Homo sapiens: one gene and its partners. The main gene of each other region encodes a partner of the protein of the gene in region 2 in a complex. Each region holds a gene or a part of one and is shown on either strand. Other genes may lie near its edges. A codon is read from its position in the direction of its gene.

What was found.
Region 1: the proteins of GNAS (region 2) and GPR6 are in contact, whole or in part, in a cryo-EM structure (PDB 8TYW), measured with the Homo sapiens proteins. Residues at the interface, in NP_000507.1 of Homo sapiens: Gln35, Arg38, His41, Val217, Phe219, Asp323, Asp343, Leu346, Ser349, Thr350, Arg356, Tyr358, Cys359, Phe376, Arg380, Asp381, Ile383, Gln384, Arg385, His387, Leu388, Gln390, Tyr391, Glu392, Leu393, Leu394; in NP_005275.1 of Homo sapiens: Met107 (codon at 6,483), Asp165 (codon at 6,657), Arg166 (codon at 6,660), Ser169 (codon at 6,669), Leu170 (codon at 6,672), Ala173 (codon at 6,681), Leu174 (codon at 6,684), Thr175 (codon at 6,687), Tyr176 (codon at 6,690), Tyr177 (codon at 6,693), Leu182 (codon at 6,708), Ile248 (codon at 6,906), Val252 (codon at 6,918), Arg254 (codon at 6,924), His255 (codon at 6,927), Ala256 (codon at 6,930), Gln258 (codon at 6,936), Ile259 (codon at 6,939), Leu261 (codon at 6,945), Gln262 (codon at 6,948), Gln263 (codon at 6,951), His264 (codon at 6,954), Lys276 (codon at 6,990), Gly277 (codon at 6,993), Thr280 (codon at 7,002), Leu281 (codon at 7,005), Arg332 (codon at 7,158), Asn333 (codon at 7,161), Gln334 (codon at 7,164), Glu335 (codon at 7,167).
Region 3: the proteins of GNAS (region 2) and FZD6 are in contact, whole or in part, in a cryo-EM structure (PDB 8JHB), measured with the Homo sapiens proteins. Residues at the interface, in NP_000507.1 of Homo sapiens: Gln384, Leu388, Gln390, Tyr391, Glu392, Leu393, Leu394; in NP_001158087.1 of Homo sapiens: Arg226, Ala310, Lys314, Ser316, Cys317, Val396, Gln407, Lys409, Leu410, Phe413.
Region 4: the proteins of GNAS (region 2) and TACR1 are in contact, whole or in part, in a cryo-EM structure (PDB 7RMH), measured with the Homo sapiens proteins. Residues at the interface, in NP_000507.1 of Homo sapiens: Arg38, His41, Val217, Phe219, Tyr358, Phe376, Cys379, Arg380, Ile383, Gln384, Arg385, His387, Leu388, Gln390, Tyr391, Glu392, Leu393, Leu394; in NP_001049.1 of Homo sapiens: Met63, Thr67, Asn68, Asp129, Arg130, Ala133 (codon at 6,213), Ile134 (codon at 6,216), Ile135 (codon at 6,219), Pro137 (codon at 6,225), Leu138 (codon at 6,228), Gln139 (codon at 6,231), Pro140 (codon at 6,234), Arg141 (codon at 6,237), Leu223, Gln239, Ala242, Lys243, Val246, Met249, Leu308, Asn309, Phe312.

What each region holds. Positions count from the first base shown.
Region 1 is NC_000006.12:109,972,949-109,981,431, forward strand, and holds GPR6 (G-protein coupled receptor 6), read left to right. Parts: upstream 1-5,362; 5' UTR 5,363-5,519; intron 5,520-5,745; exon of another isoform or gene 5,746-5,827; coding exon of another isoform or gene 5,828-5,854; intron 5,855-6,146; coding exon of another isoform or gene 6,147-6,164; coding exon 6,165-7,253; 3' UTR 7,254-7,772; downstream 7,773-8,483. UniProt on the Homo sapiens protein: Orphan receptor with constitutive G(s) signaling activity that activate cyclic AMP. Promotes neurite outgrowth and blocks myelin inhibition in neurons.
Region 2 is NC_000020.11:58,901,421-58,909,104, reverse strand, and holds part of GNAS (protein GNAS), read right to left. Parts: intron 5,578-7,684; coding exon of another isoform or gene 5,575-5,577; coding exon 5,520-5,574; intron 5,434-5,519; coding exon 5,314-5,433; intron 3,723-5,313; coding exon 3,625-3,722; intron 1-3,624. UniProt on the Homo sapiens protein: Guanine nucleotide-binding proteins (G proteins) function as transducers in numerous signaling pathways controlled by G protein-coupled receptors (GPCRs).
Region 3 is NC_000008.11:103,301,553-103,309,236, reverse strand, and holds part of FZD6 (frizzled-6 isoform a precursor), read right to left. Parts: intron 260-7,684; exon of another isoform or gene 156-259; intron 1-155. UniProt on the Homo sapiens protein: Receptor for Wnt proteins.
Region 4 is NC_000002.12:75,119,290-75,126,973, reverse strand, and holds part of TACR1 (substance-P receptor), read left to right. Parts: intron 1-6,205; coding exon 6,206-6,400; intron 6,401-7,684. UniProt on the Homo sapiens protein: This is a receptor for the tachykinin neuropeptide substance P. It is probably associated with G proteins that activate a phosphatidylinositol-calcium second messenger system.

The DNA of each region.
Region 1 (8,483 bases), on a different chromosome or scaffold from region 2:
GAGTATGACGCTGGTGAAATGAACCAGATCAAGGCTCAAGTCTCCTGCTAGTGCCCTGTGTAACTGTGGACAACTTCACCTCTCTGAACCTCAGTTATCCCACCTGCAAAGATCATAACTTCAAACTCCATGTAATTGTCTCGAAGAATAAAATGAAATAGTACGGAAGGAGCTTCAAAGCACTTTGAACATGTAGGGTCTATTTGAGGATGCAGGGTGGGAGGAAGGGGAGGAGCAGAAAAGACAACTATTGAGTCCTGGGCTTAACACCAGAGTGATAAAATAATTTGTACAACAAACCCTGTGATAGGAGTTTACACATGTCACAAACCTTCACATATACCCCCGAACCTTTTTTTTTGAAAAAGAGAGAGAGAGAGAGAGAGACTCCAGCCTAGGTGACCCAGTAAGACTCTCTCTTTCTCAAAAAAAAAAAAAAAAAAAAAAGGTGGGGGGAGCCAGAGACCTTAACAGACACCTCACCAAAGAGATATCCTCATGGTACATATGCATCTGAAAGGATGCTCCACATTACATGTTATCAGGGAAATACAGATTAAAACACAAAAAGAGAGAGAGAGAGAGAAAAGAAAATGGGGGGCATGGCAGGTTGGAAGACTGCCTCTGTGTTCATTTTCAAATACACTAATTAATAGAAACAACTTTCTCATTAACATTCTCATAATCAGTAAAGTTGGTGCTCTAAGTTGTAATAGTATACATTCCTTCATAAACTCAATAAAGTTATTTTCACTCTTTATGAAAAAAATACATATGCCTTTAAATGTTATGATTTATTTCTCATGCAAAATAATGTTCATTAAGTGAATTAAACCCCAAATCTCAACTTTCCTGCAGTGTTCTGCATCCTGTGGACATGTGATGATAATAATGGTGCTTTGCTCCTTATCTAAATTTGTGGGGAACATTAATTGATGCTGAGCTTCCAGGATAGAAGCCCTTTGGAGTGGGGACTGCCCACCTGGCATGAGGGAGGTAGGAACATCCCCGATGTGTCTGGACATGCTGAAGAAGTAGGTACCATAGAGCACTGATGCCTGAGGATGAGGGGCACCCCTGGGGACAAGCAGAAACAGAAAGAAAGGAGATATTTTTAATAGAATTCATCTTCCTCAGCATGTGTCCCCAAAAGATTACACTCCATCCAACACCATGGATCTGGACAAACAATGTAGTGTATTCAGTGGCCCTTTGTGATTTCTGTCTCTTGTAGCAACAATCTTTCTTAATAAACAGCTTCATACATCTCACCAAGCACTTGCTGTCTTCCTGAGATGTCAGCACAAGCACCTGGATACCACCAGATAGACTTACACTTCCCAGTTGAACACTATACTGCTTATCCCCAAGAATCAAGAACAGGGAGCGTGTGTGTGTGTGTGTGTGTGTGTGTGTGTTTGTGTGTGTGTGTATGCGCATGCAGATGCCCAGAGAGAGAGAAAGAAAGAGACAGAGAGACCAGAATTTCTTGCCAGTGTGGGTCTTTTCAACGTAGTTTTGTAAGGTTCTGGACAGCTTGGCTGGCTGCAGTCCTGATATTATGAAACAGAATTGATTTGCAAGGATTTGAGCCAGGAGAGGGCACACCTGGGAGGCAGCTGTGAGATCAGCCAGAGCAAGGGTGCAAATGCTGAGGTATCTTGAAACCTACAGCAGAATAAAGGGTTGGGACAACCTGAACCAGAGCCAGAGTTTAGTGCTCCCTAATGGGGCTATTGAATTCATCAGGGCCAAGAGAGAACCATGTGCCAGCCTTTATCTTGAGAGAGGAAGGAGGTTCTGTGTGTATATGGAAAATTAAAGGTCTGCAGAGGAGATGTAGTGAATGTGTTAAACCTGAAATTACACAATGATTTAGAGCTGGATTCTCACTGAAATTTCTTTATTGCAACTATTCCAAAAAGATATCCACTATTTCAGGAGTTTCACTACACACTAAACTGACAAAGGGATTGTTTAGATGAGTGTTCTCAACCCTGAGTTTTCTTTCGGGTCTTTAGAAAATACCCACTCCAGACAAAATGAATCAGAATTTCTGGGTGAGGGATCCAAAGATGGGTAGTTTTAAAAACCCTTCCATGTAATTCTAATATGCAGCCAGGATTGAGAACTGCTGGCTTAGGCTGAGATGGGAATGAGATATCAAAGGAAGCTAGAGAAAGAAAGATTGTGGTTGAAAGGCTCTGATTCCTGGGCTTAGCCTCAGACAAGAAAAGTGTCCTCATGTTTATGCTTAAATAGTGCTAGAACAGAAAGAAGCAAGGCACCTCAGCCTGTGATAAGTTGGTCAAAGGGTTGGCAATAATGAATTTAATCTGTGACTACCAATCAGAAGCCAAACTCTGAAGACCCCAAAACATAAACAAAACCAGACAAGCTGGTGGATGAATAATACATTTGGTTGTATGTTTCAGTCAATGATCAAGGATTCACAGAATAGAAACCATTCAAGGTAGCGCAAGATTAGGAAGGTTTGTGGTAGAGACCCAAAATGTAATTTCAAGGCATCAAGGGATTTGGGCTCCCAGAGCCAGGAACCAGACACTCAGGGACTGAGGTCACTCCTTTCACCTCTTGGTCATTTGATCTTCTTCATCTCTGTTCCTCTTCACACATCTGCTTCATTCTTCCAGAGCAGTTGGCTTTCTCTGATTAAACACTTCACACAAGGTCCAACACACAAGTGGTTCAGCTCTAATTTATCACTGTCTTTCATGTCCAGAGCCCAACACTGACTCACCGTTGTTAACGTGTTTCTTAGTTCAAATTTTCAACAGAAAAGGATCTGGTCACTAGCCCAGCAAAGGATGGCTGATCGTATCTAGCTTCAGTTGAGGTGTCAATCTCCTCCCATATACTAGGGTATGTGTGGAAAATTTCATGTAGTTTACAGGCTGAACACTTTAGGAGACCATTGGAAGGGCAGGTGCTTATATAGTAGCTATAGGCAAGGCAAGTAAAGAAGTCCATCTAATTTCCATCCATAACTGATGAAACAGACATATTTTGCTTTCCCATCTTCTACCTTCCAAAATATGGGTGGATATAGGGGAGATAAGGAGGAGTTTGAAAGAACATGCTCTGTCTGCCCAGGACCTAGTCTAGCATCCAAAAGAGGTAACCACAGATTGGCATCACTCAAAGTCAGTCTACATATCCTCAACCATCATTTATGTACATGATTCTACATGTGTTGTCTTCCTCTGGAAATCACTGAGAAATCCATTCTTGGTAATGTTGAAGCCTAAGGATATTCAGAGATCCTGTGGTAGGTTCAATTTTAACCTCATACTTTCTGCTACATTGTGGCATGTGAAAATGGAACATACTTAGATATTAAGGAGGATTCTCCTCCCCTTGGGCTTTTATCTGATCATTTGGAAAATCCTCAGTTAACATGCTGTTACAGTGGTTTGACGGCTCACTTGACAGCTCTGAAATAACATTCTTGACTCTTAGATGACAATCTTGTACCGAAACACAAAACGGCTCTTTTCAGAAATTTAGAACTTCAGCCAAGTTTTGGGTTCAAGAAAATAGTGGTGTGTGGATTTTTTTAAGCTCTCCAAATGGATAAATTGTGTGTAAACTCACTTTCTGTCCAACATCAGCTATTGCACCAAATAATTGAACTGTCATATGTCCCTTGTTCTTGTAATTAAGTTGGCTGCATTGAGGCAGGAATAGTCTGGACTTGGGGGTCATGTTTAAAGGCAGCAACCTAGGGTAAACTTATCCTCCAACCCATGGACAGTCTGAATATCTTTTTTCCCCTCTTTGGAGCTAGAGGCAAAGTGAAGGGAGGAAAGGGTCCACAGGGAGAAGTAGGGGGAGCACTAGCAACAAATGTTGCCAATTTTCACTTTTCCCAGACCATGTGGTCCCTGAAAAGTATGGCTGTGGCCTCTGTGCAATGCCATCATGCCAATGTGCAATCATCTATTTTAGAACCTCAGATGGCATCAACTATTTTAGCTCTTGCCCAGGTACAGCTACTGCACATTCTGGGAGAAGAAAGAGAATAAGAAGACTAATATTCGTATCTTACTGACAAAACAAAACACCTTTAAAACAAAAGGATGATTTATCTGGGCTGAAAATAAAACTCCTGCCTACTGAAGTCTGGTGCAGCTGAGTTATCACGATTTTCGTCCTGTAATTTGTTTTATAGGGTACTAATTAACAGGGCAAAGTCTGAAGCCAAGAAAGTAAATCACATTTTGCTGTTTTCCTTTTCTCTAGCAAGATGCAGACCTGGTCTTTAATTAAAGCGCAAGTTCCAAGGGCGATATCAGCTACCGAAATCGGGAAAACATGGGCCGAAAAGGTCACAGTGAAACCTGCTGTGTAGAGTTCAGAAAAGATAATGGGAAAGAGAGGAATTGCACAGGCAACCTCCAAAAGAAGAGATTGTTTTCCTCAGATGTCCCTGTCTTATCCATCTTTTAACTGCTCCCCATAACTCAGAATTTCTTCCCTGACTCTACTCAACTGAGCATGTACCACAAACATCCTTTTTAAAAATTGGATTTCAGGCCTGGTGAGGTGGCTCACACCTGTAATAACAGCACTTTGGGAGGCCGAGGCGGGTGGATCACACGAGGTCAGGAGTTCGAGACCAGCCTGACCAACATGGCGAAACCCCATCTCTACAAAAATTAGCTGGGCGTGGTGGCGTACATCTGTAATTCCAGCTACTGGGGAGGCTGAGGCAGGAGAATCGCTAGAACCCAGGAGACAGAGGTTGCAGTGGGCCGAGATCGGGCGACTACACTCCAGCCTGGGCGACAGAGTGAGACTCTGTCTCAATAAATAAATAAATAAAATTTTTAAAAAGTGAATTTCTTTTCCCAGATAATTCCTGTTTCGGGAACGGCATTTTTTTTTAAAGGTAGCTACTTTCCCATCAAACACCCCTGTCCCAACCTCCCCCTTCTCCGGGGTTTCTTTTTTGACCTGATCCCTCAGTGATCTTTGACGCTGGGCTTTGCTGCCCGGCAGGTGTCACTCATCCTTCACCCCTCCCCTCCCAGCTCACCCTCTTCGCCGCCTGGTCTCAGGGTCTTCTTCACTCCTTTCTACCTCTCCTTGTCTCTCTCCCATCCCATTCCTGGAAGTTCTGGACTGGAGGTGGTTGCTCTGGCTTCTCCTCCCTCCTAGGACCCTCAGATAGTGTTGGGGGCAGGGGGAGTGCGGCGGGGAGGGCACAGGATGGGCTGGCGAGGAGAGTGAGTGCTGGGCTCGCACCGGGAGCCGGGAGCCTGACGTCACCACGCCCTGCCTGTCAATCTGCAGCGCGCGCCGCTCGCAGCCGCCTTTTCTGCCACCAACTGTATCTCTCACTCGCGGAGCCGGCACAGCGACAGGCGCCCCGCGCTTGCCTCCTCCCCGGCCCGGCCGCCTCCTGCAGGCAGCTGCTCTGTTTGCGCGGGGAGCTCAGCCCGGCGCCCCGCCTCGGCGCCCATGACCAGCGACTTCCAGAAGTCCTGACGCCCCAGGTGAGTGGCCGAGTTCCCAGGGAACTTTGAGGATGTGGGGAGAGGAGGGGAGAAAGATATCCAGGGGACAGGTCTTTCCAGAAGAGGAGAAATGGAGCCAACCTTGACTCCCACCCTCTGCTGCCCCCATACACACACCCTAGTCTCTCCTCCCAGACCCCCTTCGCAGGGGTCTCTGGGCTCCAGGACTCTCCAGGCTTCGCAATGCCAGAAACTTCGCTTTCAGCACCGCGGACAGCGTCTCTGCTGCCCAGCCCCATGGGGATGTCCTGGTCGCGCCGCCACAACCCAGGCGGGACTCTCCCAGGATGACACTCCTAGCTTGGTGCACTCGGGTGCGTGTGCAAATACAGGCAGCCTTGGAGAATTGATCCTTGTGCATGTGAGTGCATGTTGTCCTGGTGTATATCTGCAAAAACTCAGAAGTCCGCGTGGGCATTTCACTCACTCACTCAACAGGTATTTATTTTGGGTTCGCACTTAACCCATGATTCCCCGATTTGCTCTGGGGTCCCAGGGTGGGGTGGGCAACTCAAGTGGGGCAATGCGAGAGGAGGCTCTACGCGTGGGGAAGTTTCCTGGCAGCCTGAAGTGTACACCTGACGCCTGCACTCCCTCCCTATGCAGGGTGCAAATCCGGCCGCGATGAACGCGAGCGCCGCCTCGCTCAACGACTCCCAGGTGGTGGTAGTGGCGGCCGAAGGAGCGGCGGCGGCGGCCACAGCAGCAGGGGGGCCGGACACGGGCGAATGGGGACCCCCTGCTGCGGCGGCTCTAGGAGCCGGCGGCGGAGCTAATGGGTCTCTGGAGCTGTCCTCGCAGCTGTCGGCTGGGCCACCGGGACTCCTGCTGCCAGCGGTGAATCCGTGGGACGTGCTCCTGTGCGTGTCGGGGACAGTGATCGCTGGAGAAAACGCGCTGGTGGTGGCGCTCATCGCGTCCACTCCGGCGCTGCGCACGCCCATGTTCGTGCTGGTAGGCAGCCTGGCCACCGCTGACCTGTTGGCGGGCTGTGGCCTCATCTTGCACTTTGTGTTCCAGTACTTGGTGCCCTCGGAGACTGTGAGTCTGCTCACGGTGGGCTTCCTCGTGGCCTCCTTCGCCGCCTCTGTCAGCAGCCTGCTGGCCATTACGGTGGACCGCTACCTGTCCCTGTATAACGCGCTCACCTATTACTCGCGCCGGACCCTGTTGGGCGTGCACCTCCTGCTTGCCGCCACTTGGACCGTGTCCCTAGGCCTGGGGCTGCTGCCCGTGCTGGGCTGGAACTGCCTGGCAGAGCGCGCCGCCTGCAGCGTGGTGCGCCCGCTGGCGCGCAGCCACGTGGCTCTGCTCTCCGCCGCCTTCTTCATGGTCTTCGGCATCATGCTGCACCTGTACGTGCGCATCTGCCAGGTGGTCTGGCGCCACGCGCACCAGATCGCGCTGCAGCAGCACTGCCTGGCGCCACCCCATCTCGCTGCCACCAGAAAGGGTGTGGGTACACTGGCTGTGGTGCTGGGCACTTTCGGCGCCAGCTGGCTGCCCTTCGCCATCTATTGCGTGGTGGGCAGCCATGAGGACCCGGCGGTCTACACTTACGCCACCCTGCTGCCCGCCACCTACAACTCCATGATCAATCCCATCATCTATGCCTTCCGCAACCAGGAGATCCAGCGCGCCCTGTGGCTCCTGCTCTGTGGCTGTTTCCAGTCCAAAGTGCCCTTTCGTTCCAGGTCTCCCAGCGAGGTCTGAAGGGCTCGCCCCGTGTCCTCTCACCAACACCACACCCCAACAAGCCAGCCTTTGGTAAGCTCGGTGCCTGCTGACGAACTCTGAGATCCCAATGGTGTGAGTCTGACTTTGGAAAGAAAAAGGGACTAAAGAGAAATGTAACAAACTTACAAGGACAAAGAGGCTTGTTGGCACTTTACATATACAGTGTATACATGTGTACATATATATACAAATATTTGTATCTTCTGGAGGTGTTCAGGATGTGGAGCTTCCTATTCTGTGAAAAACCAAGAAAAAGATATGGTTGTATACTCAAATTGTACATCACGTTTGTCAAACGAAGACATTCCAATACTGCTTAATTATAGCACTTTATTTTTAGCTGCTGAACTGCCAAAACAGTGTTGCCATTTTCAAGGGCAGGGAAAAGGGAGTAAAAGGTGTATTTTTGTCGTATGTGATAGAATATTTTGCTGCACATGCATCAACAAATTACAACATGTTTTGTACACGAATAAACCCATTACAAGAATGTAATTTGGGGTATGTCACTGACTATAGAATTACAATTAGCTGAATTGTAAGTGTATGAGTGTCTTTCTTTCCTTTCTTTCTTCCTTTCTTTCTTTCTTGCTTGCTTGCTTTCTCTTGCTTTCTTTCTTTCTCTTTCGTTTGTTCGAGATAGAGTCTCACTCTGTCGCCCAGGCCTGAATGCAGTGGCACAATCATAGCTCAGTGCAGCCTTGAACTCCTGGGCCCAAGAAATCCTGCTTTAGCATCCCTAGTAGCTGGGACTACAGGCATGCCACAGCACTCACCTTACTTTATTTATTTTTTTAAGTTTTTAAAATTTCAGTAGTTTTGAGGGTACAGGTGCCTTTTTTGGTTACATAGATGAGTTCTTTAGTAGTGAATTCTGAGATTTTAGTGCACCTGTCACCTGAGCAGTGTACACTGTACCTGATATGTAATCTTTTATCCCTCACCTCCCTCCCAACCTCTCCCCACTGCAAGTCCCCACAGTCCATTATATCACTCTATATGGTTTTGTGTCCTCATAGCTTAGCTCCCACTTATAAGGGAGATCATATTGTATTTGATTTTTCATTCTTGAGTTACTTCACTTAGAATAATGGCCTCCAGCTTCATCCAGGTTGCTGAAAAAGACATTATTTCACTCCTTTTTATGGCTGAGTAGTATTCCATAGTATATCTATATCTATATCTATCTATCTATCTATCTATCTA
Region 2 (7,684 bases):
TATTTGTGTCTCTCTACAAGGTCAGGCTCAACGGAAGTGACCGTCCCACAGTTATGCAGCACTAAGTCAATGGCACATTTGCTTGTGTGTTGGTTACATTTGTAACTCAAAGCTGATGCCTTAAGAAGGTTAGGGCAAACAGGATTTAAGATAAATAATTTTAGGAATCAGGGAACTCTAGATGCGTCTAGCAGCTAGCCTGTGGCCTCGACGCAGTGGGGCCACACAAACAGCACAGCACGGTGGTGGGGCTTTGTTCTTCGTGTTTATTTTTATTTTTTCTATTTTTCTTTTTTATTCTTTACTTAGCTTCTTTATTCCTGTTGCTCTCTGGCAATATTCTTGATTTTTAGAAGGTTTTATGCATATCAACCAGTAGAGAAAGGACCCCAAAACCAGGCTGGCCTATCACATTCTGTGCCATTTGGTAATGCCTGACAAAAACATTTTAATTTTCAAATTGCTTGATTAAAATGGCAAACAGTTTGAAAATTGTATACCTCTATATCATTCAGTTAAAAAACAATAAAGTGACATTCTTAAAAACATCAAGGACTTTCCCCTCAAGGGCACACGAGATTGTTTTAGTTACTGAGAATCTGTATCCCTTCCTTTTTACTTTTTAAGAATCTCATTGATTAAAGAGAACAAAAGAGGTTGGCACAAAGGGGCCCTTCTCGCCCTAGCCATCCTGAACAGGAAACAAACACAAAGTTCTCTTCCGTTCTGTTTGGTCCATGAAATAGAACACTCCAGATATTACGCTTTTCATTAAAAAAAGCATCTTGTTTGTGTTGCTTGACTAGACACACAGGAAAATTTACTTTTGAAAGATTGGGGTAATTAATATGGAAAATTAATGTTAAAACCAGTTATTTTTTGGAGGGAGGGGCATGTAGAGATTGGAATTGTTTTAAAGCGGGCTAACGAGAAAAGAAAATCATAAAGAGAGAAAAGTTTATTTAAAGAAACTGCCTAAGTTTTCTGTTCCCCTCTTCCTTTTTACTAGTTCAGAGTTAGTCTGGCTTAGAGGATATACTAACTTGCCCAATCAATCTTACATTACAGCACCAGTCCAGAAATAGCTCCCCAGCCGCCCTGGCCTCCAGCATGTTACCATGGCAACAGAACCACAGTTCTATAAATAGATCATCAGCACCAAATCTTGTGAGAGAGACATCTGGAGTGGAGCCAGCCAAACCCCAGCTCAACAAATAAAAATAGACAGCTTAAGAAATGGGCACACTACCAGTATCTGAACTTTAACATAAAGGCAGTTCAACCAGAAACGTGCCGGCCACGGCAGATGCAGGGCTGTTTGAGCCACGGGTGAGGGAGGACATTTTAAAAGTTTTAAGCTGCGTTGTTCTCTTTTTCTCTGAGTTTCCTTAAAACTTTTCATGATCTATACAAATGGTGCGTTTTCAGACAAAGTTTCAGGAGTAATTAAGTGTTGCTTAAAAAAACCCCAAAAACTTCTAAATGATTTGAGAGAGAAAACGAAACCCGACAAAATTCAACAATCTGGCTAAGCTACTGTTAATTAACGAAACTGGGTCTCCCTGCCCCCCCAGCATTCAAAACTGGGGTGGTTAAACTCTCTTAATCTTGTACCTGTACTTAACTTCTGACTTGGATCCAAAATACAAAATGCAAACAATTCCAGGATTTCCATTTGTTTTGCGTTACTATAATTAGCGCTTCCAGCTTTTGGTTCGAACTTTTGAGAAAATCAGGGACTTTGTTGAAGAAGGAGTGGGGGCTGGGGGCCATAGGGACCAGCCAAGATGGACTGTTTTTTTCTGTTCCTTGAAAAAATATACACATTTGCTTGTATATTAAACCGTGGAATATCTATGTATGTGGCAATTGAAAATAAAGGAATTTCCTATGGGAAGGCAGGGCTGGGGTTGATAGATTGCGCAGACCCTAACAGAGGCTTATATGATTTATAGATGAACAGTATTACCTCTTCCTCCCTCCTGTTTATTCAGGTGGTTTTCACAATCAGTTCCTTGGGCTTGAGGCTACTAAGTAAAGCAATCTTAGCCCTTGGTGAGTCAGCCTGGCACCTTGGTTCTGATTAGCTAATACTTCCTATAGCAAAATCAGTTCCGAGTTTCAGCTACTTGTAATAAGGATGGCTAAAACATCAAACCTCTACTAGACTCCCCTGCCCCAAGTCACAGGACACTCCTACTTCAGAATATCATTAACTGAGACTGCTTTGTGCATTTCTGCAGCATCAACAAACAGAAGATATCTTTACATTTTTGGCTGGGCACGGTGGCTCATGCCTGTAATCCCAGCACTTTGGGAGGCCGAGGCAGGTGGATCACAAGGTCAGGAGTTCGAGACCAGCCTGGCCAATATGGTGAAACCCCATCTCTACTAAAAATACAAAAATTAGCTGGTTGTGGCGGCAGGCACCTGTAGTCCCAGCTACTCGGGAGGCTGAGGCAGGAGAATCACTTGAACCCAGGAGGCAGAGGTTGCAGTGAGCCAAGGTCGCACCACTGCACTCCAGCCTGGGTGACAGAGTGAGACTCCGTTTCAAAAAAATAATAATAATGTTTACATATTTTTTAAATAACCCTGACCACCACATGCTTGCTATATCATGTGCAAGATGAGGGAAGCCATAAACTATTTCAAAGGCAACTTTCTAGCTATCGGGTACGATGTCCTCTGGGAGAGACCATGGTGGGTGACAGGGACAGAGGGCGATCCCTGAGGCAATGGTAAGTCAGGTGTTAGGCAGCAAGGGAAGCAGCCTGGGCATCAGGTAGAGTTGTGCAATAAAGTCTGTGTTTTAAGTTCCCCCTTCTTCATTTGCCAACACACCAACCAGGTGAGCCCACCTTTATGAGTGACTTTGGAGAAAGATGCTTTTCCCATTGCTACTGCAGGCCTTAACCTGTCCTCCTCGCAGGTAGTAATTTGTTTTATTTGAAAATAACCCCACCACGGTATTGTACTGCTTAGGTGTACAGTTTAGGATTTAAAATCCATTGACCACTTACCATCCTTGAATCAAGACCCGGTGAGAAGGAATAAATAAGGATATGAAATAGAGTTCAAAAGTCAAGACAACACAAAAACAAACTCTACCTAGAGTCACTAGGATCTAGTAACACTAGGCAGCTACTAGAGTCGCTTACCTGAGAGCAGAAATAGATCAATCAACAACTACCAAGGAGAGAGGAGGCGTAGCTATGTCTTCACCATTCCTCTTTGTTATGTTTTAAAATTACAGCAATAAAATATAGTATTTTTACATTATTCAAAATGTGAGCACAGCCCTATTTCCCTAAATGCTTAGGGTCAATTCAATTAATTACTTCCTACTAATTAGGAATACTATGAAACTCATCATCATTTTGCTCTAACAGGCTTTAAATGTTTATGTAAAATAATGTCGCTGCACTAAAAGAAAAAAAATGCAATTAAGGACTTTATAAATAAACAATTGAATCAGATTAGAACTTTCTGCCAGTGGGGTAACTGGTTGGCTTCTAAGAAAGGAATCATCAACAAGTAACTTTCAAAGCAGGATCACAGGTTTTCATGTTTTCTTGTTTTTGTCTGTTTTATGTGCTGATGGGTTGGGTGGCGGTTACTTACTACTGGGCACAGTCAATCAGCTGGTACTCGTTGGAGCGTTCGTAGCAGGCACGCACTCCTTCATCCTCCCACAGAGCCTTGGCATGCTCATAGAATTCCTGAAAGTGAACACAAGAAAGTTTAGAGAAAGGCAAGAGCTTGAACTAATCAACAACACTGTCATTCAAACCCTGAGACCAGAGTTCCCTATGTGACCGACACTTGGTGTGATTTTGAATTTTGAGCCCAATTAATGAATTAATGCTCACAAAGAACTTTAATTCAACACGTTAAACATATTCAAAAGTTCACGCAATTAGCTGCTGGGTCTTATTGTGAATTACTGGTTTTGGGTAGTTTCTTTTCTCGTGTGTAGGGGGAATGGGGTAAGCTACTGAGTAATTTAGTTTCTTCACAGAATTGTTTAGGAAGAATATACACTAAATGTGTTAGAATATGCCAATAAATGGTTCAATGTTGTGAAAATAAGAAACTTCATTTGTAAGATGTGCTGGGACTAAATTTTCCTCCTGGGAAAATGTGAATCTTACCAAAAAAAATGATGATGGGGGACTTGTAGGTAGGAACATAAAAGTTCAGATGTTAGTAGGACTAATAAAAAGTTATTGTTCTGATACATTTTTAATAGGCTGCTGTTTCCTTTTCCTATTAAATATAGAATCATATTTCAAGAAAGTCAGTGGGTTATATTATACATATTGTGTTTATTGCTTTTTTTTCAAAATAATGCTATTTAAAAAGTTTAGCTATCCATACTAACTATATACCACTAAATTTCTCCAATTTAAGTTTGCAGCCAAGTCCATCTAAAATATACAAACACAAATTCCCACGAAAGCCTGACAAAAGGCAACAATAACTCATTGTTTTAGCTGTAGACAAGTCTCTTCCCTGTGGGTCTTACAAACGCATACATCTTTCCATCTCGTTTCCCGTTCCCCGCTTATAAGCCATTCTCCCCACGAAGGGGCCTAAACTTATATGCTTGGGCTTGAACAGTTTTTTGTTCCCTAAAAGTAGTTCTTTAGGGAGCCAACAGTGTCGTGCATCCAGAGGAAAGTCTTTTCCATATGTTCTATTTTATGATTTTTGAGTTATGATTTAGATATATTTCATTTTTTTTAATAATGAGAAAAGATTTCATTTGCCCCAAGGACTTTAGAAAACTCTTAATAAAAAGGTCACCTGTTTAAAATGAGAATGTCTTCCATTTGGCACTTCACTGAGGCATCCCAAGGTACCTTAGGGCACTTCCAGTGGAGTAAATGGACAATTAGTATTTGTGTGCCATATTTAACATACAGTTTTGTCCTAAGATGTGAATGAGGGAATAATTAAGCCTGCCATAGCTCAGGACCTTTTTCCTCATAAAAATTTACAATCTAATAAAGTGAGATTGTAGTATTCAAGAGTGATGTTTATTTGTGAGGACAGGTGAGCTAAGATGTAGAAGGGGTGACAGAATTTTGCTCATCCATCTTGAACAAAGCCCTAATGATTATTATTATTAAATTAAGGTTACACATGAAATTAACTTTTTCCTAAGGATGGACATCACTGAAATGTAGTTTTGCCTGAAGTGTGGTTTGGATGCTCCTGCCCATGTGCAGGGCTGTCACTCATGTTCCTATATGGACACTGTGCTCAGGTGGGCGGGGCTAAGGCCACACAAGTCGGGGTGTAGCTTACGGGAGGGAAGTCAAAGTCAGGCACGTTCATCACACTCAGGATGTAGTCCACTCTGAACTGGTTCTCGGGGTTGGCCAGCTCCACGGGGGGCACCAGGTTGCTCATGGCGGCCACAATGGTCTGAAAATGATTTAGCAAAGCGGTCAGGGAACAGCACTGGCTGGGAGGGCGCTACAAGACAGACAGCACAAGGAGCCAGCACGTACTTCAATCGCCTCTTTCAGGTTGTTTTTGATGTCCTGCACTTTGGTTGCCTTCTCACTGCAGTGGGATTGAAAAGAAAAGAAAATCATATTGCACCATGTCAGTTAGGAGTACTGCTTTCATAAAGACATCCCGACTAAAAAGCATAGTATTCTGTTCTTCAGGGAGTTGTGGGTTCGGATCTGTGCAAAGATTGGAGGTAGCTGAATAAACATAGTTGCAAATTATAACCTCCCAAATGTGCCCTGAGGACACGCCCAATCGGGGCAGATTAGCAAATTGCCTTAGCAATCATGACTGTACCAGAAGTTGCATGCAGCTCATTTAATCTTTCATGGGTTTGAAGCCCCCACACTACATACTAACACTTCCTAAAGGCTTCTCCTGGTCCTATCAACATCTGGGTAGGGGTGAGGCTGGAGTGATAGGTCACTATGAGGTTGGGGTGGAACAAAACAGTCCCATGGTTTGACTTGGAATTAACTCAGTTGCTAGCATACTGAGAGAACCAGTGAGCACAGGTGGTGGTGTTTATAATAGTTCATTACAGGAGCCCGGGTGCGGTGGCTCACACCTGTAATCCCAGCACTTTGGGAGGCTGAGGCGGGCAGACTGCCTGAGGTCAGGAGTTGGAGACCAGTCTGGCCAACATGGTGAAACCCCGTCTCTACTAAAAACACACAAAAAAACTAGCTGGGCATGGTGGCATGCACCTGTAATCCCAGCTACTAGGGAGGCTGAGGCAGGAGAATTGCTTGAACCCGGGAGGCGGAGGTTGCAGTAAGCTGAGATGGCACCACTGCACTCCAGCCAGGGCGAGAGTGAGACTCTGTCAAAAAAAAAAAAAAAAAAAAAAAAAAAAGTCGTATGTGCGATGCTCCAGGCACTGCAGCTAGCAGCAATGAAACTTCTAGTTCATGATGTTAGTGCATGTTGGTCCATGTGCAATAGGAATCAAATAAGATTCCACCCCCTAGAAGGCCTTATAATCTAAGGGGGAGGGGAGGTCAGATCCCTCTGGTAAGTAGAGGTTGAAGGTTTTGTAGCTTTTCCTTGAGTTTAACTCAGCCACATGGGATGGCCTGCGTGGTCTTTATGGAATGATCTATATTCAGGGTCACTGGTCCCACAGGTAAAGGACACACCCTTTGGCTTCTGGGGACCATAACAGAATGTTAATTTTTGTACCACATTACACTGATCCAAATGCTGTATGTTTTTCAGAAACTAGCCTTCATTAGAAGCACAGCCAGGGAAGGTTCTCGAGTTTATGTTTTTAGAGGGCAAGAAAAGGCCTCTTGTGTGGAGTATGTATCTCATCAGGTCTATAGCCCAAAAATGGAACCAGCACACACAGCACACCTGCTGTACCTGTTAGGCCCTGGGAGGTGAGGGCGTTGTCATGCGGAAAAAAGGTGCTACGGTCCTGCCTCTCTGACAGGGAAACTGAGGCCAAGAGGGGGGGAGTCACCGAGGCAGAAACCAATGGGAGATGGAGGGGACAGAGTTTATCTTTTTCACGGTTTGTATATATATATTTTTTAATCTTTTGAGAGTCCCAGTTTTTGAAGCATTCACTTGGCTGATTCACCAATTCATAGACTGGAGTAGAAATTAAAACATATAATCTCTCCAGACTAGAACACGACAGTTAAGGCAGAGGAAAGGCGAAGGGAGGTTAATTAGCAAGAGCAGACGAGCAGACGAGCAGGGCAGGGCAGTCAGTGGAGCAGCAGGGGTGGGGGGCGGGGACGGACGGTGGGGTCAAGTGCGGGCCTGTCGACAGGCCTTCCACAAATCATTTGGTCTTTCCTTTCTCAAAGAATTATACTTACAAATTTATTCTTTCTGAATAAATGTCTGTGTACTTCTGGGCCTTCACCTGCTGAAGGATCCCATCTCGCCCCCTTCCTACGTGAAGCCCCTTTCACAGGTCACTGCACCACTGCTCTTCTACATTGGGTGAAGAGCTGGGGAAGTTCAGAGGGGCCACGCTCATTAGTGGTGGGGGGTGTCTGGGGTGGGGAGGGGGGACAGATGTTGCCAGGAATCCCCTCAGGGCCATTTAAGTAAAAGTGCTGCAGGTCCGGAGAATCTCAGAAACACAGATGACAGGGAGGTGAGCGAGCTTCAGGCCTTGTGTACAAATCTGAAATCTGATTCTGGC
Region 3 (7,684 bases), on a different chromosome or scaffold from region 2:
AGTGGCCCCTGAGTGAGCAGCATCAGCATCCCCTAGGAACTTGTTAGATGTGGAATTTTTCCATCCCATCCCAGACCTATTGATTCAGGAACTCAGGGATGGAGCCAGTGATCTGTGTTTTAACAAGTCCTTCAGATGATTCTGATGCACATCAAAGCTTAAGAGCTTCAGCTTTAGGGGAACATCATCAGCTCTTCAGCTCTGTGCCTCAATTTCAGTCAGTGAAACATATCACCGACTTCACAGGACATCACACTAATCTAACTTATCAAAGACATAAAGCTGATGAGGCCATAGACATGTACCCTAGATGCCATAGTAAGATACAAGTGCAGATGAGGAGATTAACCCTACATAATTAAAAGGGACCTTGGCTTTTGCTACTAGTTCCTCATAGAAACTAAACAGGAGAGAACATCTAGAGATCATCAGGTCAAGTTACCTCTCATGAATTGAGTGTTACTGAACTCACCTACTCATGATGTCAGGGACCAACTGCATTCCATCTTCAAGTGGCTGGATAGATCTCAAAGATACGGGAAAGTAGCATATTGCTTGCATTCTCAGAATGCCTGCTTCTGCCATATTATAATTCTTTCCTTAAAACACACCTACGTCTTCAAGCAGAGTTCCCTCTCACCAAATGACTCATGAAGAAACAATTACAGCCTGGCTTACAATAGCTGGCCCCAGCTATTGTAAGTGAGCTACTATAGGATTATAACTCCATTCAGAGGTGGCCCTAGCAGGCAGAACTTCAATCACTGTCTATGTTATCAGTAGAAAGATGGTCTCAGGTAAGAAGTTATATTGATTCATGGGCTATAGCTAATGGTACAACAAGATAGGGACTTGCAAGCAACAAGAGCTTGGAAGAGTTCTACAGAACTGGTATTAGGAGTCCGGAAAAGCAGTGTGTGACTGGACTTCTCCAAAATGGGCCTATAATCTCAAAAAAAATTTTTTTTGCATGTGAATGCAAACCCAAAGGCCCCAAGACAGAGGAGGCTCTTAAATGTGTAGACTAAATAATCTACTCTGTGGATGTCAATCAGCCTTTTCTCTAGTTGCACCAGTATAGGCTTAACAGGCTCAGGAACAAAACGGCCATGGTGGCAGAAGAGTGCCCAGATCCAATAGCATAGACTTTTCCTTCTTGGGGTGATCTGGCTACTGCTGAGTAGTTCATTTGCCAGAAGCAGAGCAGTAACCAACCTTAAGCCCTCAATATGGTATCATGTTCCAGCAGGATCAACCAACTATCTAGTGTCAGGTTAAGAAGTATCCTGGATAATTTCCATCCAAGAGTTGTCCTCACTGAAATCCCTTGCTTATAAGTTCCCAAGTAGACCATACCTGTGCCAGCATCTTAGCTGTAGCATGTTTCCTTACAGCCTGAGCTTGAATTCTAGCCCACCTGGCGATTCTATGAGCTACCTGCTACTCTTATAATCAATTCCTTTTCTGCTTAACCAGTCTGGGTACCCTAAGATGGAAAGGACATGAAAAAAAAAAAACACACCTTAGAACACAAGGAAAGGAGGCTCCTTCTTCAGAGTTAAAAGAATTAAGAGCTATATAAAATCAATGAAAGAATGACCAGGGCAAAATAATATTAAAATAAGTCTAAAAGTATTTTTTGGAAATGAGTAAACAAGGGCAAAAAAGTAATCTAAGAAAATAAGCCTTTGTCAAAAAGTAGAACTGAAAGTACAATGACAAAAACAGATAGGTTGTTTTACATTCCCTCCACTAGAATATAAATTCTGTGAGGGCATATAGGTCTGTTTGTGCATTACTGTATGTCAAGTATCTGAACAGTGCTTCAAATATTTATTTATTTAGGCATTCAAATATTTGTTGAATGAATAAACACCAGCTAGTCTCAGTGAAATATACAGGGAAAGGACCAGCTAGCTCCTGATGCTATAATAATATGATAATGAAAGGAACCATAATATGGGCCTGGGGTTGGTGGCACTGTAAGATCCTGAAGGGAAAGTCTGGGCTAGAATTTTAATTGAGAGGGGTCAAAAGAAGGAACTATTTGGTTTCTTAAAAATATATAAAGCATAACCTAAGCAGAGTGGTCCTGTGGCAGTATCTTGGCAGTGCCTTGCTTCCCTGAGTACTGAAAATATGGGATACATAAACGTTTGTCACTTTTCTGAAGCATGAATCAGAATCCCACTGGTACATGGAAGCAAGCCACATCACCAGTGAACAAGACCAAGTGACTCCAAAGCCTCTGATCCTAAGCTCAGGATTTGTGCTTTCTACTCATGGTGACATACACAGTAACTCCCATGCAGTGAGAAAAGCTATATTTCTTGCTCTAAATTGGCACCAAAAACAAAGTCGATTTACAGTGATGGTGATTAAAACTGAGTGAAGGAAATTTAAAATGTCATTAAAAAAAGTGATGAACCTGGGGCCAGGCGCGGTGGCTCACGCCTGTAATCCCAGCACTTTGGGAGGCCGAGGTGGGTGGATCTTGAGGTCAGGAGATTGAGACCATCCTGGCTAACATGGTTAAACCCCGTCTCTACTAAAAAAATACAAAAAAATTAGCCGGGCTTGGTGACGGGCGCCTGTAGTCCCAGCTACTCGGGAGGCTGAGGCAGGAGAATGGCGTGAACCCAGGAGAGGGAGCTTGCAGTGAGCGAGATGGCGCCACTGCACTCCAGCCTGGGTGACAGAACGAGACTCTGTCTCAAAAAAAAAAAAAAAAAAAAAAAAAAAGTGATGAACCTTAGCAAAACAACAGGCTCACTAAAGTCTAAAGGGGCCCTTAAATGTTTTCAGTTAGACTTCACTGGGCAAATACTGTTTAAGTGGTTACAAAAGTCTTGAGTAAATTCTTTGAGAATGTCAATGGACTACTGTATAGGAAAGTGGTGCAAATTTTGCTACCTATTTTCACGAATGTGATCAATCTCAGGCAAGTCAGCTTCTTTAAAAAATGTAAAGTGGAGCCTGGAATACAAGAGAACAAAAAGCAGGAATTTACATTATTTCCATAATGGAAAACTTGTTATTTTTAAACTATTTCTTGTGAGGGACCATTAGAAAATTTAAATCATTTCTCCAGAAGAGAGTACCTTTGGAAATTAGACAAATGTACATATTAACTGATTGATACTACAAAGGAATGTGTCTAGAATAAATTACTTTTTTAATGTAAACCTTAGAACTTGAAAAACTGTAATTCTGGGAGAGCTACATATTCAGGTACATATTCAATAAATATGAATGAACACATGACAAATATATAACCTAGAGTAATAAAGCTTCATTATTTACATGCCACATTCTTGGGGAAAGGAAATAATCACAACAGTCTTCCCATGGAATACTAAGGAATGGACTAGGAACCTTGTGCTTATCAGCAGAGCCTCCCAGGAGAAATATCCTTTCTCTTCACATACAGGCCTGCCCTTATTCTGCAGTTTCAAAAGAAGGAGTCAAGGGACTTTCCCTGCTACTGCAATGCAACATCACGAAGGAAGGTTTCTACCTTTAAAACACAACAGTAGTCATTATACACGCAACTGGCTTGGAACACTTCTCACTATTTATTTCATTTTATATGATTAATGTCTTACTTTCAGAATAGCTACAGTTATTTTCAGATAGTCTTTCCTGAAAAACAAACAGGTTAATCTCACTAAACATTTTCTTTATTTGTGTATGGACATACAAGGGTAGAGAATATGGAAGAAAGGTGAAAGCAGGAAGGGACTGGACTCTTCTAAAAGCAGGAAAATAAAAATGCTTAAAAGCCACTATACAACAGAAATAGATATTTTCCTTAAAAGTCTGTTTATCCAGTTTTTCTCCATTTATTTTTAACTGAATAGAGACATTCTAACAGCACATATTAACAGGTGGAAAGGAAAGTTGTTTTTTTTCTTTTGGCCCACTTCCCTTTAGACTGTTTAAAAAGGGAATGACCACTTGCTGCTCCAAACACAATACGTGACCTGGCTTTTGCCTAGACCTCAATGAAGGCAATTGAAAAAGAAAAATACAACATTCCTGTTTCCATTTTCCCTAGATCAGTCTCAGCTCTTTCTGGATGAAATCAGTCTCTCAAGGGACCTCAATCTCACAATGCTCTAGATATGAAACAAAAGGAACACAATGGAAAACCAGTAGCCATTTGTTTTTCCACTTGGGAGAGTTAGACTGTACATCCTTTTCATTACAAAGCCCCGTTACTATGCAGAATTGTAAATTAACTCTTTGTAATACAAATGATTTCAGGTTCACATAATAAAATTAGGAAAAAACTGAAGTCCCTCATTTTAAGCAATCTCTGAAACAAAACTAAAGAACCAAGATGTCCCAGTCAGATCCTTTTGGTTTGTGATAAATTTTACTTTAAAAAATTTATGTGGAAAGTAAGTAACAAATAACTCAGTTAATGTATTAACATAAGAATGCACAATAATGTCCACTTATTTCATTCTATACTATCCTTAAAACATTTTCAAGTACTTTAAACCAAGGTTCAGCAAACTGTAGCCCCTGGGCCAAATATAGCCCACTGCCTGTTTTTGTAAATAAAGTTTTATTGAGACACAGCCACACTCATTTGTTGGCATATTGTCTGACTGCTTCTGTGCTACAATTTCAAAGTTGAATAGCTGTGACGGAGACTGTATGGTCTGGAAAGTCAAAATAATTTGGTCTTTTACAGTAAAAATTTGCAATCCAAACTTCTAAACCAGTGGGTCTTGAACTTTAACACTCAAAAGAAACACCTGGGCAGCTTGTGAAACCACAGCTGCGCTCCATCTTCAGAGATCATGATTCAGTAAGTTGGGATAGGAGTCTGTGAGCTTGCATTTCCAACAAGCTCACAAGCTGCTGGTCTATGAACTAAAGTTTAAGAACCACTGCTCTAAACCATCTCATATAATCACAGATTAAAAATGACCATAAATGCTTAAATTCTATAAAACAGGCTAGCTGTTACAAAATGAAAACTAGGAACAAAAAAGGAGTGAGATAGATCTTTTGACTTATACGGAATTCTCAGTGACTAAGAGAGTACAATTCATTGCCATAGCCATCAGGCAATTTTTCAGCCCCTCATCCTAACACTAATTCACAGTGAATCCTGGAAATTCAATAGGAACCAGCAGAAACTAAAGGTAATCGGGTTGGAGGTGTAAAACCCAATCTGATCTTTAGAGAAGCTATAAAACACATTTTTAGTAAAAGCCAAGTTACAAGCAGCTATAATTTAGTACTCAACTGGAATATACACTTAAGGACTAAAGTACAATGTTTGAAAAAAAAAAAACTGACTCATATAGCTTATAATCCAACGGTCCGATCAAAAGTTGAATTCCTTTACTTCATATAAATAACTAGAAATGGTTAAAAATCAAATTCTTTAAGCAAATTCTAATGAATATGTGTAGAGCTAATGTGGGAAACAAAATAGAGGATGTCAACTGATATATTTCATTACAGCTAGGCTCAGACAGAATGAAAAAGAATGATATGTAAACCACCTAAAAATATTAGTATGTCTTTGACTTGGACACTGTAGATGATAGAAGTGGAATGTAAAGATTTGGAGGGAAAATTCCCTTTGCTACCTTATTGGGACATAAAATCCTACCTTTTTCTTTATTTAGCTTTTATGTAGCCTCTACCATGCTCAGAGGCATTGTACTTAGTATTAGGGATACAGATGAAAAAAAAACACCATCCCTACCTTCAACAAACTCTCAATCTAGAGACATGTAGATTCACTGTAAAATAGCATAAGAACAACTGTACATTATAAGTACTGTAAGGGTGTAGAGTGGGGTGATTAAATTTGCTCAGGAGAAAGGTGAAAGAAGGGTTCGCTAAAAACAGTTATTGCTTTAACTGAGAACTGAAGGAATTGAGCAGGTGAAGAAAGGTAGGTAGACAGACGGCTCACCAGAGGATAGAGTGTGTGTAAAGATACAGAGGTGATGGACAGTAATATGGATTTGAATTCTCCAAATAGGTCAGTTGGCTGAAGCAGAGTGTGCAATGTGGGAAGGTACAAGATGAGAGACTGGACAAGCAGCCAGGGTCCCACATGAAGGGCCTGGAGTGCTCTAGAACCAGGTCTTTTTTTCCCCAGCTTTAGGGAAAATGATGAAGGATTTTAACCCTAAAGTGGACTGCACAAATTTGAATTATAATAAAATCATTGTGGCACCACTAGAGAGACTGAAGATTAGGGAGTTAACTTTTGCTTTGTTTTTGTTGTTTTCATTTTGTTTTGTTGAGTTGAAGTCTCACTCTGTTGCCCAGACTGGAGTGCAGTGGAACGATCATAGCTCACTGCAGCCTCCAACTCTTGGGCTTAAGTGATCCTCCCACCTCAGCCTCCAGAGTAGATGGGACTACAGGTGTGCGCCACAGAGATTTTATTTTTGGTCTAACAAGACTTTGTATTCAAGGCACTTGTAAGAAGGAAAAAGAGAGACAGAGCTAAACAGAGGTAAAACAATCACCCAGTTTAATTTTTATCTAAATGAAGTTTGCAAATAAGTAGCAAAGTCTGAAATTTACACATTGCATTCTAAATCATAAGAAATATTATCTTGTTTATCCAATCAGGACAAGGGCCTAAAAAAAAACCAGTTAAAGATGACATTATGGTCCATGTAGACAGAGAAGACTATCAGATTAGAGTGCTCAAAGGGACAAATCGCAGCTTTTCTGGGTTTCAGTTTCTTCATCTGTATAATGAAGGGTTCGGGGGTTCTTTACCTGAGCTATATTTCAATATAATTTGTTTTCTTTGTAATCCTACACATTTTATTTATTTAAATATTAAAACTTCTCTTATCTTGAGAAGGGGTTAATGTCATAAAAAAGGTTAAGAAGCTCTATATGATCTTTAGGGTCACTTACAACTCTCAACTTATAGGATTTTGGACATTCAAATACAGGAACTAAAAGAGAATACTACTGTATATGGATAAATAGGAAAGGGGCAGTAGGAAAAACACAATAGTATACACTGAGAAATTACATATAGGGATTAAAAGTCTGAGCCAGGGTGACATTATTTTTGCCTTTTCATTTCTCTTTCCTTTCTTCTATAGACTTAGGTTAATGCTGGTATTGTGACTGCTTGATGGCTCTCTTCTTTTGTATCCTTAAATTTACTGAAGTATGATTTATAGCAAAAAAAAAAACTTCATTAGTAAAGGCTATGAGAAAGGTTAGTTATAAGTGGAAAATTATATAATGAAGAGATTGGTAGTATTAGCAATCATATAAAAGAGGTAAGAACAAAAAGCCTTCTTGATAATATCCAGGCACAAAACTACTTGGGAAAGAAGCTAGGTAAATTAAAAAGTAATTTTTTTGAAAGTAAAAAAAATTTGGTTTTAAAAAGACGTGCAGAACAAAGCTAGTTGCTACCATCTTATAATTACAGGCATTTAATAGCAGGGATGCATCTCTCTTGAGTCTAGGTGATATGAATTTATAAGGTCACTGTTAGCATTCAAACTTAAAATGGTCAGCCAGGTGCAGTAGCTCGCGCCTGTAATCCTAGCACTTTGGGATGCTGAGGCAGGACGGATCACTTGAGCCTAGGAGTTTGAGACCAGCCTGGGCAACATAGTAAGACCCCATCTCTAAAAGAAAAAACAAAAACCTTAAAATGTATGTAGTT
Region 4 (7,684 bases), on a different chromosome or scaffold from region 2:
AAAATAGCCATTCTGACTGGTATGAGATGGTATCTCAGTGAGGTTTTGATTTGCATTTCTCTAAGGATCAGTGATATTGAGATTTTTTTCATATGCTTGCGGCCACAGGTATGTCTTCTTTGAAAAGTGTCTGTTCATGTCCTTTGCCCACTTTTTAATGGGGTTGTTTGTTTTTCTCTTGTAAATTAGTTTAAGTCCCTTACAGATGCTGGATATTAGACCGTTGTCAGATGGATAGTTTACAAATATTTCCTCCCATTCTGTAGGCTGTCTGTATGCTCTGTTGATAGTTTCTTTTGCTGTGCAGAAGCTCTTAAGTTTAATTAGATCCCATTTGTCAATTTTTGCTTTTGTTGCAATTGCTTTTGGTGTCCTTGTAATGAAATCTTTGTCCCTTCCTTTGTCCAGGAGGGTGTCGCCTAGGTTGCCTTCCAGGGCTTTTATAGCTTTGGGTTTCACATTCAAGTCTTTATTCCTTGAAGAGCTAAAATCAGAACTACCATTTGACCCAGCAATCCCATTACTGGGTATATACCCAGAGGAATATAAATCATTTTATTATAAGGATACATGCATGCATATGTTCACTGCAGTACTACTATTCACAATAGCAAAGACATGGAATCAGCCTAAATGCCCATCAATGACAGATGGGATTTTTAAATGTGGTACATATACACCATGGAATACTATATATATAATTCTTCCATAAAAAAGAATGAAATCGTGTATTTTACGGGAACATGAATGGAGTTGGAGGCTATTATCCTTAGCAAACTAACACAGGAACAGAAAATCAAATACCACATGTTCCCACTTATAAGTGGGAACTAAATGATGAGAACTGATGAACACAAAGAAGGAAACAGACACTGGGGTCTACTTCAGGGTGGAGAGTGAGAGGAGGAAGAGAAGCAGAAAAAATAACTATTGGGTACTAGCTTAATATGGGTCATGAAATAATCTGTGCAACAAACCCCTGTAACATGAGTTTATCTATAGAACAAACCTGGCACATGTACCCCTGAACCTAAAATCAAAGCTATAAAAAACTAAGAAAGACTGAATCCTGCACAGTTCCCAACGTATAGTCAACACAAAAGTTAGTCAACAAGTAGGTATTGAGGCTCTATTTAGGGGCTTAATGTCAAGAGATAAAAAATTCTGAAGAGCCAATTCCAGTGAGGTCACTCCTTCAGGATGATCCTGGGTGTCTATATGACAGAAAACACTTTGAGCAATAATTATTCTCACATAACAGTCTTACATGTGTTGAGACTGGGAGGAATAAAGGTATAACATGTATGTTTTTCTCCTTTTACACTTATTTTCACTCAACAAGCATTCATGAAGCCACTGCTATGTGCCAAGATATCATTTATGCAACCAAACTTTCAATGAGTATTTACTACATCCTCAGCACCTGGGCAGGCCAAGGACCTGTGGAGGGTGAAAAGAGAAAAGAAGGATATGCAATTAGAAAAATAAAGGCCCGGCGCGGTGGCTCATGCCTGTAATCCCAGCACTTTGGGAGGCCGAGGACAGTGAATCACTTAAGTTAGGAGTTCAAGACCAGCCTAGCAAACATGGTGAAACCCCTTCTCTACTAAAAATGCAAAAAAATTAGCTAGGCATGGTGGCAGGCACCTGTAATCCCAGCTACTTGGGACACTGAGGCATGAGAATTGCTGGAACCCGGGAGGCAGAGGCTGCAGTGAGCCGAGATCATACCACTGCACTCCAGTCTGGGCAACAGAGCGAGACTCCATCTCAAAACAAAAAAAAGAAAGAATAGAAAAAAAAGAAAAGAAAAGAAAATAGAAAATAAAGTGAAGCGTGGTCAGCACAAGGTTTAGAGATCTTCACAGCAGTAAAGGCAGGCAACAAACACAGCCACAAGGACATGATGACTGGGCCAAGTTGTGAAAATAAACAGGAACAGCCAGGAAGGGATCGAGGAGGAAAAACATCCCAGATTGACCACTGTGCTCACATTAGAACCAGGGTCTTATCTGATTCTTGGTCATGACTGGCCGTAGACCACCTTACTCACTGCTTGTGGGACACAGGAGTTATCTACCCAATGAGTTCCCATCTGCCAAAGGTAAAGAGTGTTTCTGAATATCACACCATCTTCTCCTATGGTTCTAATTCCTCCTGCTCTTCGCTTCCTGTAAACTAGACCAGGGGACAGCAAGCTATGGGCCAGGGACCAAATGCAGCCTACCTCCTGTTTTTGTAAATAAAATGTTATTATCATACAGCCATGCCCAATAGTTTCTTTGCTGTCTGTGGCTGTTTTCACACTACAAAGATAGAGTTTGATAATTACAACTGAAACTATATGGACCACAAAACTCAAAATATGTAATATCTGTCTTTCCCAGAAAAAAATTGCCAACCCTTGAGCTAGACTATAGCAGCCACACTCTCAGCTATTACCACCCTGGTTATCTGAACTCAGGAAGATGTGGTCCCTTAAAGGAAACTTGTAACACCCCAGGAGTGAGTGGGAGAAGTGAGGGCAGAAACTGGAATTGGATGAGAAAGACTGTGGAAGAAGGGCCCCACTGGACAAATCTCATCGTAGAGGAAAGACGTTCTCTCTGCTGAGTGATTTGGGACTGGTATAGCAGGAAGTTATGAAGATACTGCCGCTTGTCAGAGGATTGAAATTCCTTTTCACAATAAGATTGTTTTCACTCTGCCTACAAGAAAAAACAAATGTGCAGCAGAGAGTTCTTTTTATAAAGCATCATCATGCAAGAGGAAGGCTACATCTCAGGTTTTTCAGCTGGGAGGACACATACAATTCAAATCAGTCCTGATGGCCCTCAGTGGGACTGGAACCACCTGAAGTAAAGAACATAATCCATATCCCACACGCCTCCAGATCCCTGTCGCTGGCAGCCTAATGATTAATGCTTACACCAGAAAGACGTTTCATTGACTGCCTTAGAGTCCCACGAGCACGGTGCAGTCAATAAATATTTATTGAATGTATTTTCCTTGGGTTTGCAGCACTTGCTCCGTAATATCTTATAACCAAATAAGCAAGAATTGCTCAGGCTGGTTCCAGATAAATATATAAATGTATGTTAATGAATCCTAGCTAGAAGTGGGGAGTAGGAAAGAAAATATTCATCCATCTGTGTACAGGTTATCCAAATGGTACTAGCTTTTGGGTGAATAAGAAAAAAACATGTTAAACGAGCCCCAGAAATGAGGATTGCAAGAGAGGGATAGAAGAAAGGAGGAAAGAGAGGAAAGGAGGGAAGGAAGGAGGGAGGGAGATTTATAAACACCTCTGTTTTGAACAAATGAACATATATACATTTTTTAAAGCCAGTCTTTTTTATTCTCTCTGGCTTTATGTGGGTAATACTTTCATCTGCCACTAAAATGGCTCCTACACTAAAGAACGGTAGAGAGTTAACTGAAGTGCGTTCCCAAATTGCAATTTTTGCAATAAGGATAAAATATGGCTTTCTGCCACCCATTTGGAGTTACAGTGCCAATACGCTGGTGCAATCCCCCGTAAGCCCAGTCACATTAGATTCTGAATGGTGTATCGCCAATTCGAGCATGGGGAGTGGTGTTAGGATTTGTTTATTTAAGACTGAGCATTTATCCTGAATGAGAAACAAATTAAAATCTTGCATTTGAGGTAATATTAAAAGAGGGCAATGTAATTACCACATTCTCCCCTGAGCATCCTCCTCAAGTTCCTGTGAAGCCTGAGAATGCACAGCTGCCAGTGAGGGTAGGAACTATGCAGTGCTGGAGGTGAGATAAGGCATCTTCACCGCTGCATTTGGGAAATAATCCAACAAGCAATCCTATGGTTTTAATACAAACACTCAAAGAGGTTCTGGCCATGACCATCTGGGTCCAGCCCTTCACTGAATTGGAAAGACGGCAACGATAATGGTTGAACAGGCCCACATGTGTTGGCTCTGATTCTGAGTTTCCCCCACCCACCGCACCCCATGATTGAAGAGGATACAGGGCTCCACCACTGTCAGGCATCAAGGAAGACACAGGTCTAGGGGAGAAATCAACACTTCTCAGGGTCCTTTTCAAGGGACTACCCCAGAGATGGAAGGTCATCTAGTCTATGGTGTCCTGGACCTGCCTTGGCAGTAGTCGTGGCCATTTTGGGGTAACCTAAAGAAAACAGACAATGTTTGATTTGTAACATATTGAGAGTTGTTTTTGCCCTTTTGATGACCTGCAGACAGCATTTGAGTGATAGGCTTTATAGTATCAACAGAACCAGGGAAACTTGCCCAGAGATTTATAGATTACTACACACCCCCAACATCATATCTTTTCCAAGTCTGTTCCTATAATTCCACTCTCTCCTCACTTTAAGACCACCTACCCACTTTCTAAAAGAGGCAGAAGAAAGAGTTTCTAGGAGTTTCCTTCCTGGGAGTTGTCATGACTTCTGATATAAAGGTTGGCATGAAGTGTCCTCCTAGTAGACATACTCTATACACTAAACACCTTCAGTGGCCCTTACAGACCAGAGAGGGAAATCCCAGGTCCCTAGCACAAAAATGCAGAGAAAAGTTTCTAAAGTTTACAGTGATAAGAGGATGCTCAAGGAAGCCTTCATGCAAACAAAGCCTAATCCTAACATGGAGAAACAAGAAAGCTCCAAACACTTCCTCCCGTTGGGGCAGGATGCTCAGCAGACTCACCCCAAATCCAGCACACCTGTCGAAGCCCCTCCAGTAGACCACCTGCCATTCCAGGGCTTGAGTGTCTCCGCAGCTCCCCTAAGACTCTAAGGTATTGATCCAATTACCACTTGAGGTCACTTATCCTACTGCTGTGTTTTGAGCTGCTTATTGATGCACCTTTTCTCCCTGGAGAAATTACAAGCTTATAGCCCAGAAGGAAACGCTGTGCTCTATGTGCGGCAGGTGTCCAGTGGGAATTTATTGAGCGCATACTGAATAAAATTGCTTTACTTGTAACCCTGGTCCTAATTCTGGTCTAGAGATCCTAGGAGTCCAAAGAATACAGTAAAAGAATTATGTGGAACGATGTGGAGCCAGCTGACAGCTCTGCTACTCTTTGCAGATTTTTGAAGTCTCCGTTGACCATTCTGTCGCATGGACGTCAGAGACACCTGACTGTCAGAGAATCAATGTGTGATTCTGAGGTTTTGTCAGATAATATTTAAATGCCAAAGGCCCTATAAGATATCATTCCTTCTCTTTTAAAAAATGCTTATTTTAAGGTATAGAGCTATAAACTTTGCAAGAAAAATATGCAGAGAGAGATGTCTTTTAAAATGAAAGAGGCAGAATTGATGTGCTTATCACTGATATGAAAGGCTGATATGAAATACTTATCCTTCAAATCTCTGCAACATCTCAGGGGCTGTGCACAAACTCAAACATGTGGACACATTCATTCAGATGACACTGTTTAGTGCCAGAGCCCAGGAATGAAGCGATGGAGGAATGGCTCCAGACATGAAGTCATCATTTGCTGTGCTCCCCTCTTCCTGCAATGAAGTGTCATCCATACTGGTCCTTTGTGCACTCTAGTCTGTCTGCCTCAGCAGGTGGAGACCGTCTTTCTCTTCACGAAGTATGTATAGTTAGCCATACACTGACTCCTAGATGCTCAAAGAATTGATGAAGATTTCTCCAGGAGCTGTTGTTTTTTGCTGACTTTAGGCCAATGCTTTGTCACAGAGACATGTTTACTTCCCCTCAAATTGTATGGACCGAGGTAGGACTGCTAATCTTTTATAATATCACATAAGGACTGAAAAAAAGTACTATTCTGATCACCATTATCCCTTAATCTAGAAAGAATGAAAGTCAGTCTTTACATTGAATAAATTTACAACATTGTTCTTATTTTTCTAATTTCACTTACCTGTACTTGGCTGTCCTGTCCCCAGCACAAGCATTTCAATGATGAAAATGTCTCTCCTTGAATGCTGCTAGATAGGTTCTGAAATACTGAAAAATCTAGCTGGCTTTTCTTACGCATGTTGGCATTGTATGGCATATCACAAAGCTTAAGGGTAGAATATGGAAAAGGAATTGGAAAATAATTGTACAAATCATCAGGAATCAAAGGGTTTCTATGAATTTTCTTATTGGCAGGAAAAATATGGAATCTCTGATACAGATTTTGGTGACCAGATCAGAACTTTGTTCTTTCTTCTCTGTTCCAGGTACATGGCCATCATACATCCCCTCCAGCCCCGGCTGTCAGCCACAGCCACCAAAGTGGTCATCTGTGTCATCTGGGTCCTGGCTCTCCTGCTGGCCTTCCCCCAGGGCTACTACTCAACCACAGAGACCATGCCCAGCAGAGTCGTGTGCATGATCGAATGGCCAGAGCATCCGAACAAGATTTATGAGAAAGTGTGAGTAGAGATGACTCCCCATGCCAAAGAAACGATGGTGCAGGCTGCCTTCCTGGCCCCTTCTTGCTCTTTCTTTCTTTCCATATTCTTTTGTTGGTACAGATTTAATGTGTATCTGCAAGCATTTCTCACATATACCCTCATATCAGGTTGATATGTCCACAGTTGTCAGGGGACTATAGTATCCCAAATACTATTCTGAGCATTGAAAGATAATTTTTGAAGTGTAAGATCTAGATCCTGTTATAGCAGAGCCATATCCCTCGGGCCTTTTACCAGAGACATTACCCTGCCGGGATCTGCCTTTCTTTGCCTAGGAACTTTTTCCTAAGCTACAGAATGCCGCTCTTCTCTCCTGCACAGGTTGCAGGAAGGTGGGGAATTACCTCCCACTCCCAGCAGCTCTCAACAATGATTGAGGGGCTGCTCTGTCTATGGAGTAGCCATTCTTTTATACCTTTACCTTCTTCATAAACTTGCTTTCACTTTGCACTGCCAAAAAAAAAGAACAATGCCTAAGGGGAGCTGGCATCTGAACACCCATCTCTCACCCCTCAGGGGAGTGTGTCTCTGTGGTTTGTGTTTTACATCACGTCCGAGCTTTCCTTGTGGGATTAATCTCCACGGGTAGCTGCCTGGGTAATGTACTCTTTATTGGCCACTGCATCTTCCCTATATCACTGCTCCCTTTTCCTACTGGTGTTTCTTCTCCCGAATAAGGTACTTGCACTTGAAAATCTTGAGATAAGGATTCCCCTTTGCGGAAGACCAAAACAATACACCTACACCCAGGATTTTACAGCTGGAGAAATAGAATATGTGCAGGTGAAACACATGGGAAGGTCAGGCCAGGCATTGAGACCTTATGAGTTACAGGTCCCTGACAGGGCAGACATACTTATCTTCTAGGGGCCTGCCTGATCACATTTAGGGTTTCTCGAAGTATCCCAGCAATTTTCTCCAAGACTTCTTATCCTTGAAACAACATTGAAATGGCATATCTTTGTTTCATTCTGCTCAAGTGAGCCACAATGTGACATTTATATTACAGTTAGTTTTCTGGACTCAGAGCACATGGATAATGTGGATCTTTTTGAAAGCCCTCTATAATTCTCCAATCTCGGGTTTTTTATGTGAATCATAAAAGAACACTGGTGTTAGAATCAAAAGATCTGAATTTTAATTACAAGATTGCCAGTTACTGGCCATATGACCCTGGGCAAGGGTCACAGCCTCTCCTCGTTATTAAAATGAGAGATAATAGAGCTCTGTTTCCTATAAACA